Linked DNA regions of Homo sapiens: regions 1 and 2 are each linked to region 3. The links come from fine-mapping of genetic effects on gene expression. A gene starts in region 3. Each other region holds a variant in brackets. All regions are shown on one strand. Distances are between the middles of the regions.

What was found. PIP is the estimated chance that this variant, and not a neighbour inherited with it, causes the effect.
Region 1: its variant is the best candidate, but not a certain one, in a credible set for the expression of BAHCC1 in whole blood (TOPMed, PIP 0.81).
Region 2: its variant is the best candidate, but not a certain one, in a credible set for the expression of BAHCC1 in whole blood (INTERVAL, PIP 0.84).

The regions. Positions count from the first base shown.
Region 1 is chr17:81,441,169-81,447,083 of GRCh38, forward strand. It overlaps BAHCC1 (BAH domain and coiled-coil containing 1), which reads left to right. Exons shown (of 28, transcript NM_001377448.1): 5 at 663-2,396; 6 at 2,641-2,749; 7 at 3,213-3,400; 8 at 3,500-3,658; 9 at 3,847-4,010; 10 at 4,186-4,513; 11 at 5,868-5,915. Among named protein-coding and RNA genes, the nearest start is that of MIR3186, 7.1 kb to the right of the region's middle. The variant C/T (reference allele first, on the strand shown) is at 3,049.
Region 2 is chr17:81,310,545-81,316,459 of GRCh38, forward strand. TMEM105 (TMEM105 long non-coding RNA) reads right to left here. Exons shown (of 3, transcript NR_165247.1): 2 at 3,864-3,937; 3 at 721-3,441. Among named protein-coding and RNA genes, the nearest start is that of LINC00482, 4.3 kb to the left of the region's middle. The variant A/G (reference allele first, on the strand shown) is at 2,719.
Region 3 is chr17:81,392,756-81,398,670 of GRCh38, forward strand. It overlaps BAHCC1 (BAH domain and coiled-coil containing 1), which reads left to right and starts at 2,702. Exons shown (of 28, transcript NM_001377448.1): 1 at 2,702-2,880. RefSeq lists enhancers at 799-1,356, 3,440-4,048, 4,049-4,657 and a silencer at 1,145-1,414.

The DNA of each region.
Region 1 (5,915 bases), 48 kb after region 3:
GAGGTGTGGGGAGCTGAACATGGGGGCAGAGGGTGAGTGTTTCACGGGGACAGAACTGCGGTTCGGGGAGGTGAGAGGTTCTGGCCATGGATGCTCGTGACGGCTGCACGGCAGGGGGAGTGTGCCCAGTGCCCCTGAACTGTGCACCAAAAATGGGAAATTTTATGTTACCCATATTTCACTACAATTTTATAAAAACAAAAGCAAAAACCAGCCCGGCGCTGTGGCTCACGCCTGTAATCCCAGTACTTTGGGAGGCCAAGGCGGGTGGATCACGAGGTCAGGAGATCGAGACCATCCTGGCTAACATGGTGAAACCCCGTCTCTACTAAAAATACAAAAAGTTAGCTGGGCCTGGTGGCGGGCTCCTGTAGTCCCAGCTACTCGGGAGGCTGAGACAGGAGAATGGCGTGAACCCGGGAGGTGGAGCTTGCAGTGAGCCGAGGTCACGCCACAGCACTGCAGCCTGGGCGACAGAGGGCAGAGCGAGACTCCGTCTCAAAAAAAAAAAAAAAAAAAAAAGAGCAAAAACCTTCCCTAGGCTGTAACCTGGAGTCAGTGCCAGCTGGTGTCCGGGAGGCACCTGGAGCACCTGTCTCAGGGAGTCTTTCTCCAGCCTCACCCCTAAGGCCTCCCATTGACCTTGGCTCTTTCCCACACAGATAACTTCTACCTGCGCAACCTGCCGCCCCAGCCCACGCTGCTGCCGGCCAACCACAACTTCCCCAGCGTGGCCCGGGCCGCCCCTGCCCACCCCATGGGCTCCTGCAGCCGGGATCGAGACCGGGGTGAGGCAGGCTCCCTGCAGAAGGGCCCCAAGGACTTCGACCGCTTCCTCGTGGGCAAAGAGCTGGGCAGAGAGAAGGCGGGCAAGGCCGCTGAGGGCAAGGAGCGGCCAGCGGCAGAGGAGGACGGTGGCAAGGAGCGGCACAAGCTGGTGCTGCCCGTGCCAGCCGACGGGCACTGCAGGGAGGGCGGCCCCGCACCCCGAGGGGCCTGCGAGGGCCGCCCCAAGCACCTCACCTCCTGCCTCCTCAACACCAAGGTGCTCAACGGCGAGATGGGCAGGGCTGCGCTAGCCAGCTGTGCAGGGGGCATGCTGGGGCGGCCTGGCACGGGGGTGGTGACCTCCGGGCGCTGTGCAAAGGAGGCAGCAGGCCCCCCGGAGCCCGGGCCGGCCTTCAGCGAGTGCCTGGAGCGGCGGCAGATGCTACACCACACCGCATCCTACGCCGGGCCACCCCCGCCCCTCAGCACAGCCGCCGGCTCCTTCCCCTGCCTGCAGCTGCACGGGGGCCCTGACGGGCTCTGCCCGCTGCAGGACAAAGCCCCCCGGGACCTAAAGGCCAGCGGGCCCACCTTCGTGCCTTCTGTGGGACACCTGGCCGACAAGGGCCGCCCCTTCCAGGCCGCCGAGGCCTGTGCCGTGGCAGGGGAGGGCAAGGACCGGCACCTGGAGGGAACCATGGCCCCCGACCACGCTGCACCCTATGGAGTCTCCTATGCCCACCTGAAGGCCGAGGGCAAGGGCGAGCGGCGGCCTGGGGGCTTTGAGGCGGCCCTCAACCCCCGGCTAAAGGGCCTCGACTATCTCAGCAGCGCAGGCCCCGAGGCCTCCTTCCCCGGACTCCCTAAAAGCGGTCTGGACAAAAGCGGCTACTTCGAGTTGCCCACCTCTTCACAGGACTGTGCCCGGCCTGGTCACCAGGACCCGCTGGGCGGGAAGGCCCCCCAGGCCTGCTGCACTTTAGATAAGACTGTTGGCAAGGAAGCCCCGGCCGGCCCCCCAGGGGCACAGAAGGTGGCCCGCATCAGGCACCAGCAGCACTTGATGGCCGCCGAGGTGGAGCAGGGGGGCATTGGGGCTGAGGCCAAGCGCAAGTCCCTGGAGCTGGCATCCCTGGGCTACAGTGGGCCCCACCTGCCCCCATGGGGTGTCCAGGCAGGCCAGGGCACCGCCATGGCCATCAGCGAGGAGCGCAAGGCTGGCGCCTACCTGGACCCCTTTGGCAGTGGCCTGCAGCAGGCGGCTCTTCTGCCCCAGGAACTGCCTGCGCCGCCGGACGAGGTCTCAGCCATGAAGAACCTGCTCAAATACAGCAGCCAGGCCCTGGTGGTGGGCCAGAAAGCACCCTTGGTGGGCCTGGGTGGCCTCAAGGCCAGCTGCATCCAGCAGGAAGCAAAGTTCCTGTCCTCTAAGGGCCCAGGCCAGTCGGAGAGGCCGGACTGTGCCCGCAGCAGGGAGCACGACACCACGCACGGCGACGGGGAGGTGCGGCAGCCCCCTGTGGGCATTGCAGTGGCCTTGGCCCGGCAGAAGGACACAGTGAGCCGGTCTGAGGCAGCCTACGGCACCAACACTGCGCGGCAGGGCCGGGCCGCCCCCGCCTTCAAAGGTACAGGCCCTGCACAGAGAGGGAGGCAGGCCGGGACAGTCTAGGGGGCCCAGCTGGCCCTGCCCTGCGCCCCGGCTCCCCAGCTCCCACACCTGCCCTTGGCAGACCCTCCGAGGCCCCAGGACCAGGGGATCCTCCTCAGTGCATCAGGCCCCCCAGCTCGAAGCGGGGTCACTGCTTGCCTTAGCTGGTGGCTCCCTGGCCGCCCCAACCCTCTCCCGTCTGCTGTCTCGACCCTGTGCAGGTGGCGGTGGGCCCCGTTCCACACACGCGCTGGACCTGGAGGCTGAGGAGGAGAGGACGAGGCTATGTGATGACCGCCTGGGGCTTGCCAGCCGCGAGCTGCTGCTGCAGTGAGAGCTGGGCCTGTGGCCCTGGAGAGTGGGGCTAGGCCTGGGCTTGGGGCTCCCCACTCAGAGCCACGTGGAGAAAGAGGGGTGGTCATGGCTGGGGCAGCAGATTCTATGGCCGGCCGTGGGTGGGGTTCTCCCCACCCCTAGAGCCTTTCTGGAGTCTCACCCGGGGTTGGGGGTCTCAGTTAACCCCTTGCAGCGGTCAGGTTACCCACTTTCAGGGGCCAGGAGATGGCCCCCAGTCAGCCCTGCAGAGCACTGAGGCTGGAGCCTGGGGTTTTCCCTGAGCCTCCAGGTCC[C/T]GTTCTCCCTCCCAGGTTGATGGCAGGGGGTGGGACAGGGAGTCAGGCATTGGCACCGTTGGTGGGGCTGAGCCCCAGGTCTTACAGAGACAACAAAGGGCCGGGGGTGGGATGGGGAGCTGGGCCTTGGCGCCGGCGGCAGGGCTGAGCCCCAGGTCTTACAGGGACAGCAAAGACCGCGTAGAGTTCGCCCGGATCCACCCACCGAGCAGCTGCCCTGGGGACCTGGCCCCCCACCTCATGATGCAGAGCGGCCAGCTGGGCGGGGACCCAGCCCCCCACACCCACCCCCATCCCCCCTGGCTGCCCCGCACCCGCAGCCCCTCCCTGTGGATGGGGGGGCACTCCTACGGTCAGTGATCCAAGGGCGGGGGCTGGCCTGGGGCTGATGAGGGTTCCCTCCTGGTCCCCGAGAGTGCGAGGCCTGACCACTGTGCCCTCTGCCTCCCAGGCCTGGGGCACCCTGCCCTGCACCAGAACCTGCCCCCCGGCTTCCCCGCCTCCGTGGCTGGCCCTGTGCCCTCTGTCTTCCCCCTCCCACAGGACGCCCCCACACAGCTGGTCATCCTGCCCTCAGAGCCCACACCCCACAGCGCCCCCCACGCACTTGGTAAGGGCCCCTGGTCCAGGCTGCTGTACTTGGGGGGTGCTGTTGGAAGGAGGGGCAGCCGGGGGTGTGCTGGCCAGGGCTCAGGAGGGAGCGGTGGGCTTGGTGGGCTGAGGAAAGGGTGGCGGGGAAGCAGCCCCGGAGCTGTCCCCTCCCCAGCCAGGCTGACCCCTCCTGGGCCCTGCCCACAGCGGATGTCATGGACCAGGCGTCACTGTGGCCCCCCATGTACGGGGGCCGGGGCCCCGCCTCTCACATGCAGCACCCGGGCCAGCTCCCTGTGTACTCGAGGCCGCAGCTCCTCCGGCAGCAGGAGCTCTATGCTTTGCAGCAGCAGAGGGCCGCCCAGTTCCAGGTACCGCCCCTAGCCACGCTCACCTGGGCCGGGCACTTCTCCCCAACCCTGCCTGGCCGGACCTGGCTCCAGGAGACCCCTGCATGCCTGGCCTCTGGCAGGATGAACCCAAGCAGGGGGCCCACTGGGGTCAGGGGATCCTGAGCCTGACCGAGCTTGCCCCCATCCCTGACAGCGGAAGCCCGAAGACCAGCACCTGGATCTGGAGGAGCCCGCCCAGGAGAAGGCCCCAAAGTCCACCCACAAGCCAGTTGCCTTAACCCCCACGGCCCCGGGCGCCCCCTCACCCGCTGCAGGCCCCACCAAGCTGCCACCTTGCTGCCATCCGCCCGACCCAAAGCCCCCCGCCAGCTCCCCCACCCCACCACCTCGGCCCAGCGCCCCGTGCACTTTAAATGTCTGCCCTGCCAGCAGCCCCGGGCCTGGCTCCCGGGTGCGCAGCGCCGAGGAAAAGAATGGGGAGGGTCAGCAGTCCACGGCCGACATCATCACATCCGAACCAGGTGAGAGTAGCCGCCTGGCCCGGCCCACTGTGCTCCGCTCCAAGCCCTCCCACCCCTGCCCGGCAGGGCTGCGCTGAATCCGGGCTGCCTGCAGGGAGGCGCCACACCTGCCCAGACCCAGGGCAGCATGGCTGTTCCCTTCCTCTCTCTTCCCTCTTCCCAGTCCTCCCAATGACCTTGGGAGAAGCACACAGTGCCCCAGCCGCCCCCTTCCTGGCCGTGGGCTGACGAAGGCGGGAGGAAGACGGGGTCCCGCTGGCTGTCGTAGGGGCCCTCCAGCAATGAAGGCGGGGCCTGCTGGTGGTGGTACTGGCACCCTGGGGGCACTGGGCATGGGACTTGACCAGGCTGCCATTCAGGGTCTCAGCAAAGCTGGGAGAGGGAGGGGCAGCGAGGCGGGGTGCCTGGGTGGGGGGGTCTCGGGCCTGGCCTCGGCCCCTGCCACCCGCCCATCCACTCCCCACCAGCCTATTTGATTCTCTCTGAGTGGGACTGAGAGGTCACACTGGAAACCGTGTGGCGAACATAAAACCCGTCCTAGTTTCACAGTCAGGAGATGGAGCTAGCAGAGGGTTTTTCCGTTTTTTTCCCTTCGTTTTTTTTTTCTTTTTTTTGCAGTTAATGGGACATGATGCCTCTGACATGCTGCCGGCTTGTTCTGGTTCAGGGAAAACCCTGATTAAAGCATCATGTTTTACAAATTCCCCCTTTTCTGGTTACCCACAGCATACCATGCCAGAGATGGCTCCTGAGGCCACCCCCAGCCCCGGCAGCCAGGGTTGTTGGGGGGAGCTTCAAGGCCACTCTTTAGGGGAATGAGGGCCTGGCCTCAGGCTGCTCACACCTTTTTTTTTTTTTTTTTTTTTTTTTTTTTTTTTTTTTTGAGACAGGGTATCTCCCTATGTCGCCCAGTCTGGAGTGCAGTGACGCGAACATGGTTCACTGCAGCCTCGGCCTCCTGGGCTCAAGCCATCCTCCCACCTCAGCCTCCTGTGTAGCTTGGACCACAGGCATGCACCACCACGCCCAGCTCATTGTTCTTTAATTTTTTTGTAGTGGCACGTGCTCACTCTGTTGCCCACGCTGGTCTCGAATTCCTGGCCTCAAATGATCCATCCACCTCAGCCTCCCAAAGTTTTGGGATTACAGGTGTGAGCTACTGCACCCAGCCAGGTTGCCCCCTTAATTAACGTAACCCTTTCCCCGCCACCAGTCTTGCAGACCTGCAGCTAGCCCAGGGCCCTTCCGCACGGGCTTGGGTCTGAGGGTTCGAGGCCACTGTCCTCCGTCCTATCGCAGGACACCCCCTCACCACCACTCCCAGCTCCCTGCTGACCTGTCCCCTCCTTTGCAGACCTGCCTCCCGGATACCTGCGCCCCATGGCTGGCCTGGGCTTCTCCC
Region 2 (5,915 bases), 82 kb before region 3:
GAGTCACCATGTGCCGGGCCTGGCCGGGCCCTCCCAGTTCCCATCCAGACACCCAGACACCCAGACACCCAGACACTGGTCTCGTCCAGGCCATCACGTGGTCAGGAATGGTGTCTGCCTTTGATAGGTGAGGACCCGGGTGCTGTAGGATCTGCTGCTCTAAATGAAGGCAGGCGGTGCTGCCCCAGCGGGAGGACAGCAGCTCCAGGCCTGACAAGGCTCTAGGCCTCAGCTTCCTTATCTCTCCCGAGCCCAGGTTGACATCCCTTTCCCACCTTCCACAGCCAGAGGACTAGACAAGTGTCTTCACCGGAGCCTCGTTTCCTCATCTGAAATATAGCGCTAACCACCCCTCCCTCCCGTGGCTGTGGCAATAAATTAAATGAAGCCCACAGAGGACCTAGCACACAGTACGTGCTTAATCAATACAGAACCCCTCCCCCAGCACTGCCCGCCCTTCCCCTGGAAGCAGCCACGCTTACCTCCACCACCTCCTCTCCATGGTCATCAAACACTCGTGACAGGCCGGCCTCCCCCTGCTGAGACCCTGAGAGGTCCAGGCCTCTGCTCCTCGTCTCTGCCACGCCTGGTGTCATGAGGGTGAAACAGGCCCTTGGGGGACGTTCGGACTGGCTTCCTGTGATGGCCGCCAGCATTAGTAGCGTTGTTACTGCTGCCTGGACACACACAGACGCCTCACAGAGCAATGCAACATGTGGGTGAAGTTTTCAGATAAAATCGGAGATTTAATAGAATTCCCGCAGGGTGCTGAGCTCCAAACCCAGGCCACACATGGCACACGCAGGGCCTGTCAGGGCTGGGGCTGATGACCAGGGTCAAGGGGATCCCAGGGCCCTCCAGCTCTCCCCCAGCTCCTGATGTGGAGGGGAGGGAACTCCCGCTCACCCCCAGAGAGAAGGGAGTCCACACACCGCATCTGAGCTGGCGGTGGGCAGGGTACCCACCTCGGTGAGCAGCCTGGGGTGGGCCTGGGGTCAGGCTGAGGTCCCGGTGACAAAGGCTGGGGAGGTGGATGCAGACAGCCTCCACTTTCACCATGGCCTCCCTCCTCTGAGGCCAGGCCTGGGATGCTTCTGCCCCACAGCTCCGGTCCACCTGCCAGGCCTGTCCGTCCTTGGATGAGGGCAGGGAGAGGTGGGGTGGCCACTGGCAAGTAGAGACTTCAAAAGTGCACGGTGGCCCTTCCACGCCCTTTGCTTCTTAGCCCCCAACCCTCTGCCAGGCTTTCTCCCTTTTTCCCACGCCCCGCACAGACAGGTATCCTGCCCTCAGCATCTCACAGGGGTGAGTGGCAGCCAGGAGCAGCAGCAGATGCCTGTGGGGAGATGAGACGCCCTCAGCTCCCAGGCCCCGCTCCTGGGGAAAAACAGGGCCCCAGGAAGGTGCCCCAACCGTTCCTGGGGGCCCCAGCCCCGAACAGGGGGTCTTGAAAGGGAACTCTTGTGTGGTGAGTGCCCCCTGAGGGCTGAGCCACAAGGTCACCTTGATTTCTCAGCGGACGGAGGCTGAGCTGGCTAGGGTTCCAGGCTGGGTGTGGGAGGGTCACCCCAACAGGCGATGCCCGAGAGGTGTCCGGGCCTGGCTTTCCACGAGGAAGAACCAGTCCCCTGTGCCATCTGCAGGGCTTGCCACACAATCTGGGGACCCGGTGCAGGAGGAGAATTCCTGGCCACTTGTTTAGGAGGCAGGAAAAGGGCCGGGCGCGGTGGCTCACACCTGTAATCCCAGTGCTTTGAGAGGCCGAGGCGGGTGTATCAGGAGTTTGAGATCAGCCTGGCCAACATGGTGAAACCCCGTCTCTACTAAAAATACAAAAATTAACCGGGTGTGGTGGTGCACTTCTGTAGTCCCAGCTACTCGGGAGGCTGAGGCAGGAGAATCGCTTGAACCTGGGAGTCGGAAGTTGCAGTAAGCCAAGATCGCACCACTGCACTCCAGCCTGGGTGACAGAGCAAGACTCTGCCTCAAAAAACAACAACAAAAACCCGCAAGTTCAGAGGTAAAATGATTAAGAATTTCAGGACAGCCTTAGCCACAGGCCCCTCTGATGCCAGGCCCTGGGCAACTGCCCTCCTCACCACCCATGCAGCCGGTCCGTTTCTCGGTAAAGACTTTTCTAGAAGTGTCAGCTATGGGTCAAGGCTTGGGAGAGGGGCCAAGAGAAGACCTAGCGGATGGCAGGAAGAGGCACCTGCTGAGCTTTGGGAAGTTCCCTTAGGGCTGATGTGGGGGCTTCCCTGCTGGGCGGCAGACCACATAGCTGTGCGGGTTCTTCTTCAGCCAAGAATCATGCATGGCTCCTGCCACTGTGTGGGACGGAACCCCGTGACCAGGAGTGGGGTCTCCTGGCAGGCAGCACACCCCACGATGCCCCCCAGGAAGCCGAGTTTGTAACTCCTCCTGTTAAGGGAGCCCTGTGGTCAGGGCCAGGACCCTCCCTCCTCTTGAAGATGCCAGCAGAGCCCTGGCTTGCAAGAACTTGATGTGTGCGTTTGCCTGACCGGGAGTCAGGCGACTGGTGTGTCCTGGACACCTGCGAACCAGGCAGACGCTTCTTCACCGGGAGCTCCGGCCCCGGTGGGGCTGGGGCTGGGGCTGGGGCTGGCCTCCCACCTGTTTGGTAGCGGTAGCATCATCTCAGCCAGCACTCAAGTACGTGACAAAGTCATGCAGAGCTGGCAGGGGAGGCACAGGAAG[A/G]CCCTGTGGTCCCGGGCTACCAGAATTCTGTTTGGGGGATATGGGGTCGCTCCTGGCAGAGGTGGGGGGCATGGGAAGCTGAGCTGTTTTCCCTCGAACGTCTGCTGAAAGTTTTCTGAACAGTTCCATACCTCGTTGTAAGATCAGAGCTTGCCAGCTGAAAATGAAGGACATTCACTGTTTCAGGAGGTGGCCGGGGTGGCTGCTGAGGCCTCCGACCTCCCTCCTGCAGAGGCCACAGGCTGAGTGGGTCCCCACATTGGCCCTGTCTGGCCCTGTCTGCACCGGTGATCTGAGGACCCTGCCACCGTCAGGAGAGAACTCTGAGTCCGAGAATCTAAAGTTGACTTAAGAGGTGAAAAACACGATGAGGAGGAAGAGATGGCAGTCACCTCCCTCTAATCCCTGCACCCCGGCCCCACAGCCCCTTCATCCTCACCACCCCGCAGGCTGCCAGCGAGAGGGAGGAGGGAACCAGGTGCAGCCCCCCTGCAAGAAAGCCAGACTGCCCCCAGGCAGGCCCTTCATGTCTTCGCCTTCTTATCTTCATCTCACAGAGGCAGCTGGGCTCAGCACAGTCCCCCCAAGGAGACCGAGGTGGGGACCCCTGGGGAGACGTCCTCGGGCCCTGCAGCAGGGTGGGGGGCCGGAGCCAGGCTGTGAACAAAGACCAGGTAAGGAGATAAATCAGCTGCCCGATCACATTTCCTGCCCTGAAAGCTCCTGTAAAACATGAGAGAAAATTGACCTGTCAGGGGAATAGATGGGCCCAGATAGTGGCCGCCCGCCCCGGGCCAGCTTCCCTCCACCCATCCCACCTGCACAGAGCGCCCCTGCCCGGCCTGGGCAACCCCAGAGGGAACCCAGGCCCGGGGAGAGGTGGCCCCCATCCAGGCCTCCTGTGGGGGCTCTGCTCCCAGCCCCCACCCTTTGCATGCCCCTGACAGACGAGGCCCAGCTGCTCAAGCCCATCAGGCTATAAAACGGATGGAGACCAGGGGCGGTGTCAGCAGACAGCTAGAGTACCTTTTAAAAAATGTAATCTCTTTTTATTTCCCTCCCCTGCCCTCCCTCCTCCCTCCAGACCATAACCTCCCCGCCACCCCTCCCCTCTTCCTGCGCAGCCCTGACCTTGGTGCACAGACCTTGGTGTGGGGTGGCCGGAGGCTTCAAGGACGCCCTCCTCACCTTGAGAAGCATCGGGCTCAGCCAAGCTAGCCTGTGGGGGCAGGGAGAGAGGGAAGCAGAGCTGATGTGGACAGGCTGTACCCCCCCCAAGGTGACCCCACCACCTGCAACTCCCCCAGCACCGGGGTGGCCTGGGAGTGCCAGACGGGGCCCCTGCCTGAGGAACAGGATGGGAGGCCTCTGCAGTCAGCTCCTCCACATGACGGAGGGGCACCTCTGGCCTCCCGGGGCCGCACAGAGCCAGGCTGGCCTCCAGCTCAAATGTTCCTCACCCAATCCCGCCGCAGAGCCTCCACTCTCTCTCAGCCCATCTTATGGCTGAGGCCAGGGAGGTCGGCAGGCTCGGGAGACTACCTGGTGTCCTGTTAGTGGACACCATGCAGGGCCTGGGACCCCAGCTCTGCCTGGTCCCCACGCCCAGGCCCTGCCAGCCCTACAGTAGTACCACGTTAGAGCCCCGGCCTGCAGGGGCCATGCTGTGACGGCGGGTCCTCAAGCGGAGGGCTCCCAGCTGCCGCCAGTCAGAGGCATCAGGCTGCCTCAGGGAAGTCCCTTCTCCAATGCCTCTTTGGCCGCACAGGGAGCCCCTGTGTGTCCCCCGCCCCCCAGGGTCTCTGCTGGACAAGAGGCTGCAGCAGCCGACCGGGGCCAAATGCATCTTCTTCATCCTCCCTCAGGCTCAGCTGGGAAGGAAGGTGCTGAGAGGAGGGGAGGTGGCCTCTGAGCTCACTCAGGCCTCCCCAGCCACCCAACACTGCCTCCAGGTCCCGTGGGCTGCCCAGCTGGCCCCAGGGGACAGCCGAGTCCATCCACTGGCACACGCCGGAGTCTGACCAGTAACCAGGCCTGACCAGCCGACCCTTCCCCTCCATCCCCTCCTGAACAATGGCTCTTTCAGCACATGGGCAAGAGGCCACTGGCCAGCAGGAGCAGGCAGATGACTGACAGGGCCAGAGGGAGTGGGAAAGAGGCTGGAGCTCCAGCCCAGGGGTGGCGGGCAGCCAGGGAGGGCAGCCACGCGCCATCCTTAGGGCTGGGGGCCGACAGAGGGTCCCTGAGGGTTGGGAGAGTAGGGAGGACCCAGGGCCTGGGGTGGTGACAGGGCACAGGTTGAGGAGCGTTGCGCAGGGCAGGGTTGGGTTGCACCCACGCTCTCCCCAGCACCTGGCAGCTCCCCGAGGCTGAGGCCTCTGGGGCCCCAGAGCTGCCCAGGTCTTCTCGGCTTCCCGGCCTCAGCCTCCCCTCACCCTGCCCTGCCCTGCCCCAGGCATCACTCCCTCTCCTGGGACCTCCCAGACCTTCCTCTGGGCTCCACACGTGGCAGGGACTCTCCTGCCCCAGGATCCTCCCCAGGCGTTGCCCGGAGTGAGGACTGTTCTAAGCAGCCTCACCATCCACCTGGGAGCACAGGCTGGGGTCCGGAGCCTCCCCTGAGGGTCTGGTGCGGGGGACAGTAAGAGTTGAGGGTATATCCTTGTCTCTTACGTGTGTGTACACATGTACACACACGTACTCACATGCACACCTCATGCACGTGGTCTTTTCCCACCTGCCCCCGTCAGTCTGCTGTCCCAGACCCTCACACTGGGGCTAAGGGTGTGCTTGGCTGCGAGGGGAAGCGGGGACTGTCTGGCAGCTGCATGGGCTCTGCCAGTCTGGGGCGCTGTGCGAGGGATGGAGGCTACAGGGGCTGGAGGACAGGCAAGTGGCAACGCGGAGCCATAGCCCTGCAGGAGCCGGCCGGAGGGGGTCCCTCTGCCTCGGCTGCCTTCTCCGTCCTCCCTCACTGCTGTTCCTACAGCCCCTGGCAGGGCCGGCGGCCTAGGGACCCTGAAGGGCAGGCCCGCAGGACTGGTCTTCACACTCTGCCCGGGGCAGCCCCACCCCCTGAGTCCTGTCCTGTGCAGTCCTCTTGCTGCGTTGGTGAGATGTCTCAGAAGGCAGAATGGGGCAGATTTGCTTTCTTCTGTTTTGTGGTTTAAGCTTCATCATGCCAGCCCTGGCTCCCT
Region 3 (5,915 bases):
CCGTTCCCCCACAGGGCGGTTAGAGGTGGAGCACCTGCCCTGATGCGAGGAGCTCAGAGCAACTTCTGGGACACCACGGGTGGCCACGGTGTTCTTTTTGTTGCATCCAAGATTTTTCTCGTATACGTATTTTCCTATATTAAAAAATTCAAATGAGGCTTTAAAAATTAACTTGAAAAAGGTTCCTGATCCGGAAACAGGCTCATCGGAGGCAGTGATGGGAACTCGGTTCCTTAGGAGAGTAGGAAATGCGCCGTCTGCGAGGGGCGCCCTGCGTGGACCCGGGGCCTCGGGGCGCGTCCACTTACCCGAGCCAGGAGAGACTGGGCCCCACGGTGTTAGCCCCGCGCTCGGGCTCGCGCGCCGCTTCCAGCTCGCGCCTCCTCCATCCCCGGAGGGCTCCGCGGGTCCCCGGCGACGGGTCCCTGCCCAGGGTCCGGGAACCTTCCCCTCCCCTCCTTTCTCAAGCGCCATTTCTCCGGAGCCGGGCCGGCCGTCCTCGGTGTACGCGGGAAGCGGGCAGCCTCCGCCTGCACCCGCGGGGCCGGGACCCGGAGGCACCCGCTTCCCCGACACACTCGCTGGGGCCGCTGCTCGCTGCTCCAGCCTCCCGAGGCCACGGCAAGAGCCCGGGGGTCGGCGCCACACACCCCCAGCCGGCGACCGCGCCCAGGGACCTAATTCAATCGCCCCCAGCCTAATGAATAGCCGCGCGCTAATCGGATCTCCGCGCGCTTCGGGGATTTACGCTTCCCGGCTCTCCCCCTCGTGCCCCGCGGCCCGCCAGACGTCGCTTCCGAAGGCGCCGGCCTGGGGCCTGGCCAGGGGCTCGGCCGCGGGGGGTCCCGGCCGCCGGAGCCGGGAGACGCCGGAGACGGGAGCCGGGCCCGCGCGACCGCCACTCCCGAGCCAGCCGGGGTGGGCCCCGCGCCTTGTCCTGCGTCCCCGGCCCGGCCCGCGGAGCGCCGGTGCTTACCTGCGAGCCCCGGGCTCTCCGGAGCTCCCCTCCGGGCCGAGCCGCCCGAAGCGGGCGCCGGCGTAGGCCCCGACTCAGGCAGGCGGGAAATCCCGGAGTCCCCGCCCGCGGCCCGCAGCCCCCCACCCCAGGTCGGCGTGGCCTGCGGGGGGGAAGGCCGGCCGGGGCCGGCCGCCCGCTTCCCCTTTCTCTCCAGATTCCTTTGATCCGCGGGCTCTCCGCCGCACCTCGGCTCCCGGGCTGCCCCGGTCGGCCCGCGGGGATCCTGGAAACGGTCCCCAGCTTATCTCCTTTCATCAAGCGGCCTTGGGCCGCCTTGAAACCGCGGAGCCAGTAATTGCTTTTTTCAGGAGGCCCAGTGCGGACTGGACAACAGCCAATCAGCGCCTTGTTTACACTCGGTGATGGACAGTCCACTGGCGGAGTGCCAACCAATCCCAGCGGTCCCGCGGGAGCGGGAGTGGGGGCGGGGAAACAGAGAGACAACAGGCTTTGAGTTTAACTCTTTCGTGTCCCTGCCGGAATGAGACGGTGGAGAATTTCGAATGCGTGTGAATCTGTCAGTTGGCTCCTAGTTTAAATATCCTTTTTTCCCCCAGAGGGGGAGGCAGAGATTCACATGGAGAAAGAGGAGCAAAAATAAATGTATCCATCGCCACTAAGACATCACCTCGACTCCCTGAGAATAAATAGCATTTGGGTGGGAAACCAAATTCTAACAGAAATATTTGTTTGCGGAATATTTTAGAAGTGGTTTGCATCTGATTACGATAAAAATTGTTCAGTGGCTTGCTTTAGTTGGAGTGAGGATTTAGCAGATAGGCAGACAGGGAGCAGCATTGAGAAATACTATACATGGTTTACCACACCATACCCGCTTCCCCCATTACCAAACTGAAAATATTTTCTAAATCTAGGTGTAGATGAAGAAAGGGCAATCCTTGTCTTCTCAATAAATCCCTGATTTTCATTTTAGTAGCTGCTCTGTTGCAAAGTGTGGCAGAGGGAGATAAAATTGAGAGCCAGTAATGTAGACGGCTGGAGACTCAGAACTCACTTCCCAGGGTCTGATCCCCAGGTCATGGGGAGGAGAGAGCCGGACGGGCTATTCAAAGCTTTTGCTGCCCAAGCAGCGGGCGTGCGTGCGTGCATCCGCGAGCTCGGGTCCGGGCAGGCAGCAGCTTCAGAGCGGTAGATGGGCCAGGCAACCTGGGGAGGCCTCTGGGCTTGGAGGTCTGGCCTACCTGCCACCTGCCAGACAGATTCCAGGGAGAAAAAGCAGCTACTTTTAAGGGGTGGTGGTGTTTCTTCCCTTGGCCTTCTGTGCGGCAGAAGCCAAACGTTAGACCTGCTGGATTAAACATATATGTGTGTGTGTGTGTCTGTGTCTGTGTCTACGCCTCCCCCTCCGCCGGGACACGCGCACTCGCTCGCTCCAGCTCCCTCTCCCGCCCTGCGCCACCACATTCCCATTCAGCAGCAATGATCTGCGCAGAGGAGCTGCGCAGTCGCCGGGCTTGAATTAGGCGCCATCGGGCTTGGTAGTAGCCCCGCTGCTTCCTGATTGGCAGTTCCCTGGCCCGGCGCCAGCCTATTGGGAGGCCTGTTTACGCCGAATGAGTGGCACGAGCTCCCGGCCGTGGAGGGCTGCGCGGCCAATCAGCGCGCTGGCTGTTCCGGGCTGAGTGGCACGAGCTTATTAGTATGCAGGGCCCGTGGCTCGCCGCGCCAGGCTGCAGGTTTGAGAGCCGCTCTGGATGGGCTCGCTAGAGTCGTTGTTGTGGAAGCGGTGCATTTACAGTGCAACAGTCAGCACATTGAAAATACCAATAGGAATACAAAACAAAGTCACATTTACTGATTTAATTGTATTGCATTCAGTTGTATCCAGGAAACAGCCTCCAGTAAGTAACTGAAATTGCTTTCATTTTTTTTTTGTTTTTGTATTTTTATTATTATTTTATTTTTTATTCTGGCTTTGGGGTTTTACATTTTTTTTAGCAAAAGAAATTCAGGATTGTGATGTTAAGAAGTATATATCTTCCCTTTTAACAAAATCCGTTAAAATGTTGAGGCTTTTTTTTTTCTTAAAAAATATGGACTATGAGCGATTTTTTTTTCTCTGAAAAATCTTATCGATCGGTTTAAAATTACCCCCGTAATGCATCCTTGCTTTGCTCTGAGCGCTTGTTGTCTCGATCGACACCCAGCATTAAAAACAAATACTCGAAGACAGGACAGGGACCGCCAGGCTGCGTCTGGCGCGAGCCGCGCGGGTGGCACCGGGCGGACAGTAGGCGAAGTCCGGGCGCCGCCAGCGTGCGCCCAGTTCTGGGTGACCCACGAACGAACCCCAACATTCGCTCCCCTACCCTGCTCCCCTCCCCGGAACAGTCCTGGGTTGGCCCTGCCCGGTCGGTCCGCGGCGAGGGGAACTGGCCGGGTCGTGGTACCCACGGCCGCTGCCCTGAGGGGCCTTCCGGGCCGAAGCTAGGGGCCGGGGAGGGGAATGGTCATGGCGAGTTTTTCGGGTCTTCGTTCCCAATTCAGAATTTTTTTTTTCCGGAGAAGTGGGGGTGGAGGAGGGGGACCGAGCAAGGCCGGCGCAGCGGGGCGTTTTCACCGCGCGCGTTCGGGACGGCGCGCGGGGCTCGGGTCACGGCCCGTGTGGCGGGGTCCGCGGGCTGGTTTTCTTCGGGCGCGGGGGTCAGGCGCGACCCCAGTTCTCATGACTCTCCCAGGGAGCGGGTGCGGCTGTTTCGCAGGGAGCGGGTTCTGCGGCGACGGCCGAGCCACTCGCGCCCCAAGGCGCGCCTGGTCCCAGCCCGGCCTGCAGGCCCCACCGCGCCCGCGCTCCCGGAGACGACGCCGGAGGGAGGCAGACGGGCCAGAGTCCTGGTCTCCGGCAGGCGGGCGAGGAGAGAGCGGGTTTTTAGATGCAAAAGCAGGAAACAAAGCAAACTTGTAGAAGCTCCAGATCCTGGAGCGCGCCAGCCACGCCTGGGGCCGCGGCAAGAGGGACCGGCGGCTCCAGGGTCACGCCCTGCCTTCCCGGGAGGGAGCCCTGTGCTCCTAGGTTCAGTTCCTTCCGAAATGCCCTCGTCAGCGATTCTCCGCCCGCCCGGGGCCCTCTGCCCGCCGCCACTTTTCGCTCCATTTCCTCCCTTACCTCAGCCCGACCTGGCGCTGCGGCGCCGTCCTCGCGGTCCTCCGGCGCGGCCTCTCCTGGAGCTGGGCTGGGAGTGGGCCCCGGGCCTCGGCACTCGGCGGGTGGCGGCGTCGCCGCTGCGGGACTGTGGGACTCCCAGCTCGGGCCGTGTGGCCGCCCTTCCTCGCCCCACTTCCTGGCCGCCTCAGGCTCCCCAGGCCCCCGAAGCCCGGCGCGGGCAGACGCGGAGGCGCGGCGCGGCCTCTCCCCGGGAGGAGAGAACACAAAGAAAAGCTCTCTCCAATCCGGTCAGAGCCGTGGCGGCGCAGGCAGGCGACAGTAATCCACCTCCTGTTTGCTTAAAAAGTCGAGCAGGCTGGTGAGAAAGGAACAATCGGGCCTGCGATCCGCCCGCAGGGGGTGGGAGATTAAAATTGTTGCTTCGTAGCCGAGCCCGCGTCCCGAGAATCGCCGGCAGCTCGCGCTTTCTCAACTTTGAAATTTCTTATTGGAGAGAAAAAAAAAAAAAAAAACAACCACAAAACAAAAGCACAGCACACACGACTCCCTGGAGGCCGCCAGGAAGCCTGGCACCCCCGCGTGCGCAGCCCCCGGCCCCTCTCCGGCCTTCGGCGCCTTTGAAGCTGCAGGTTTCTGACCTCCCTCCCTTTCCTTCTTTCCCTTTGTCCCGCCCGGCGCCCTCCGGGGCTCGGGAGGCGCCGGCCGGGGCTGGGGGCCCCCACGTCCCTAGTCCAGCCCGGGCAGCCCCTCCCCTGACCCCTGCGCTCGCAGCCCCCTCGCCAGAGCACTCTCCGGGCCCTGGCGGCCGGGCGCTCGCTTTGCAGGCCGGGATCGGGGCTTGGGAGCCGAGCTATTTGTTAGACCCGGGGAGAGAGCTGGCGATCCCCAGAGGGAAGGGAGCCCCAAACGCCTTTGTATGTAGTTGCCAGACAAAGAGAACTCTTTGTGTAGACCCATTTATTTACAATGCAAAAGCTCTCCGAATAAATATTAAAAAAGCTTATCAGCTGAGCAAATATGTATTCACTTAATACATTATGTTTTCGGTTATAGATTAAATCAAACACAAAATAGTCTGCAAATAAGACGTTTTAGAACCCGGACCATAAAATATCGCAATTTAAAAAGGTATTCAGTAGATGGAAAACATCTTAATCGCTTTGTTGTCATGGTGGAATGGCTACAAAAACACAAGGTTTTCCGCAAAGTTCCTAATTAGGAATATCAAGCCTATCCATCTCCCTTTTGTTGGAGGTGATAAACATTAAAACAATACGTATTTAGAAGATGAGGAGTAATATGTGAAGTGCGTCCAGGGAGCGCCTTCGGAGGGACGCCTGGGAGCACGGTGGTGCACGCAGCTTCTATCACTGGCTCCGACCCTCCGCACCCAGAGTCTAAAATTGTCCCCAATTTCGCCTGAGTGGATGCTCCGCGTTGGGTGGGGGTGGAAGAAAATGGAGGTGAGGGTTATTTTAGGTGGCCGAGGTCCGGGCAGGGTCTGCTGGCAGAAGGTTGTGCTGGGCCGGGCCCACCTTCCCCGGCTAGAGGGCCGAGCTGGGCGCCGCAGACCCCGCGTACCCAGGCCGCCCGGTACTGCCCGGAGCGGAGACCGGCCTCTGCTCGCGGTCCCCGGCAGGCGCTGAAGGAAGAAATCCCAGGGCCGATTTGGGCCGTTGAGAGAGAGCATTCTGACTCTGAAAGCACCCCCCCCACACACACCCCCAAGCCCCCAATCCGCAGAGGAAGATCCTGGGCGAATTTGATTGG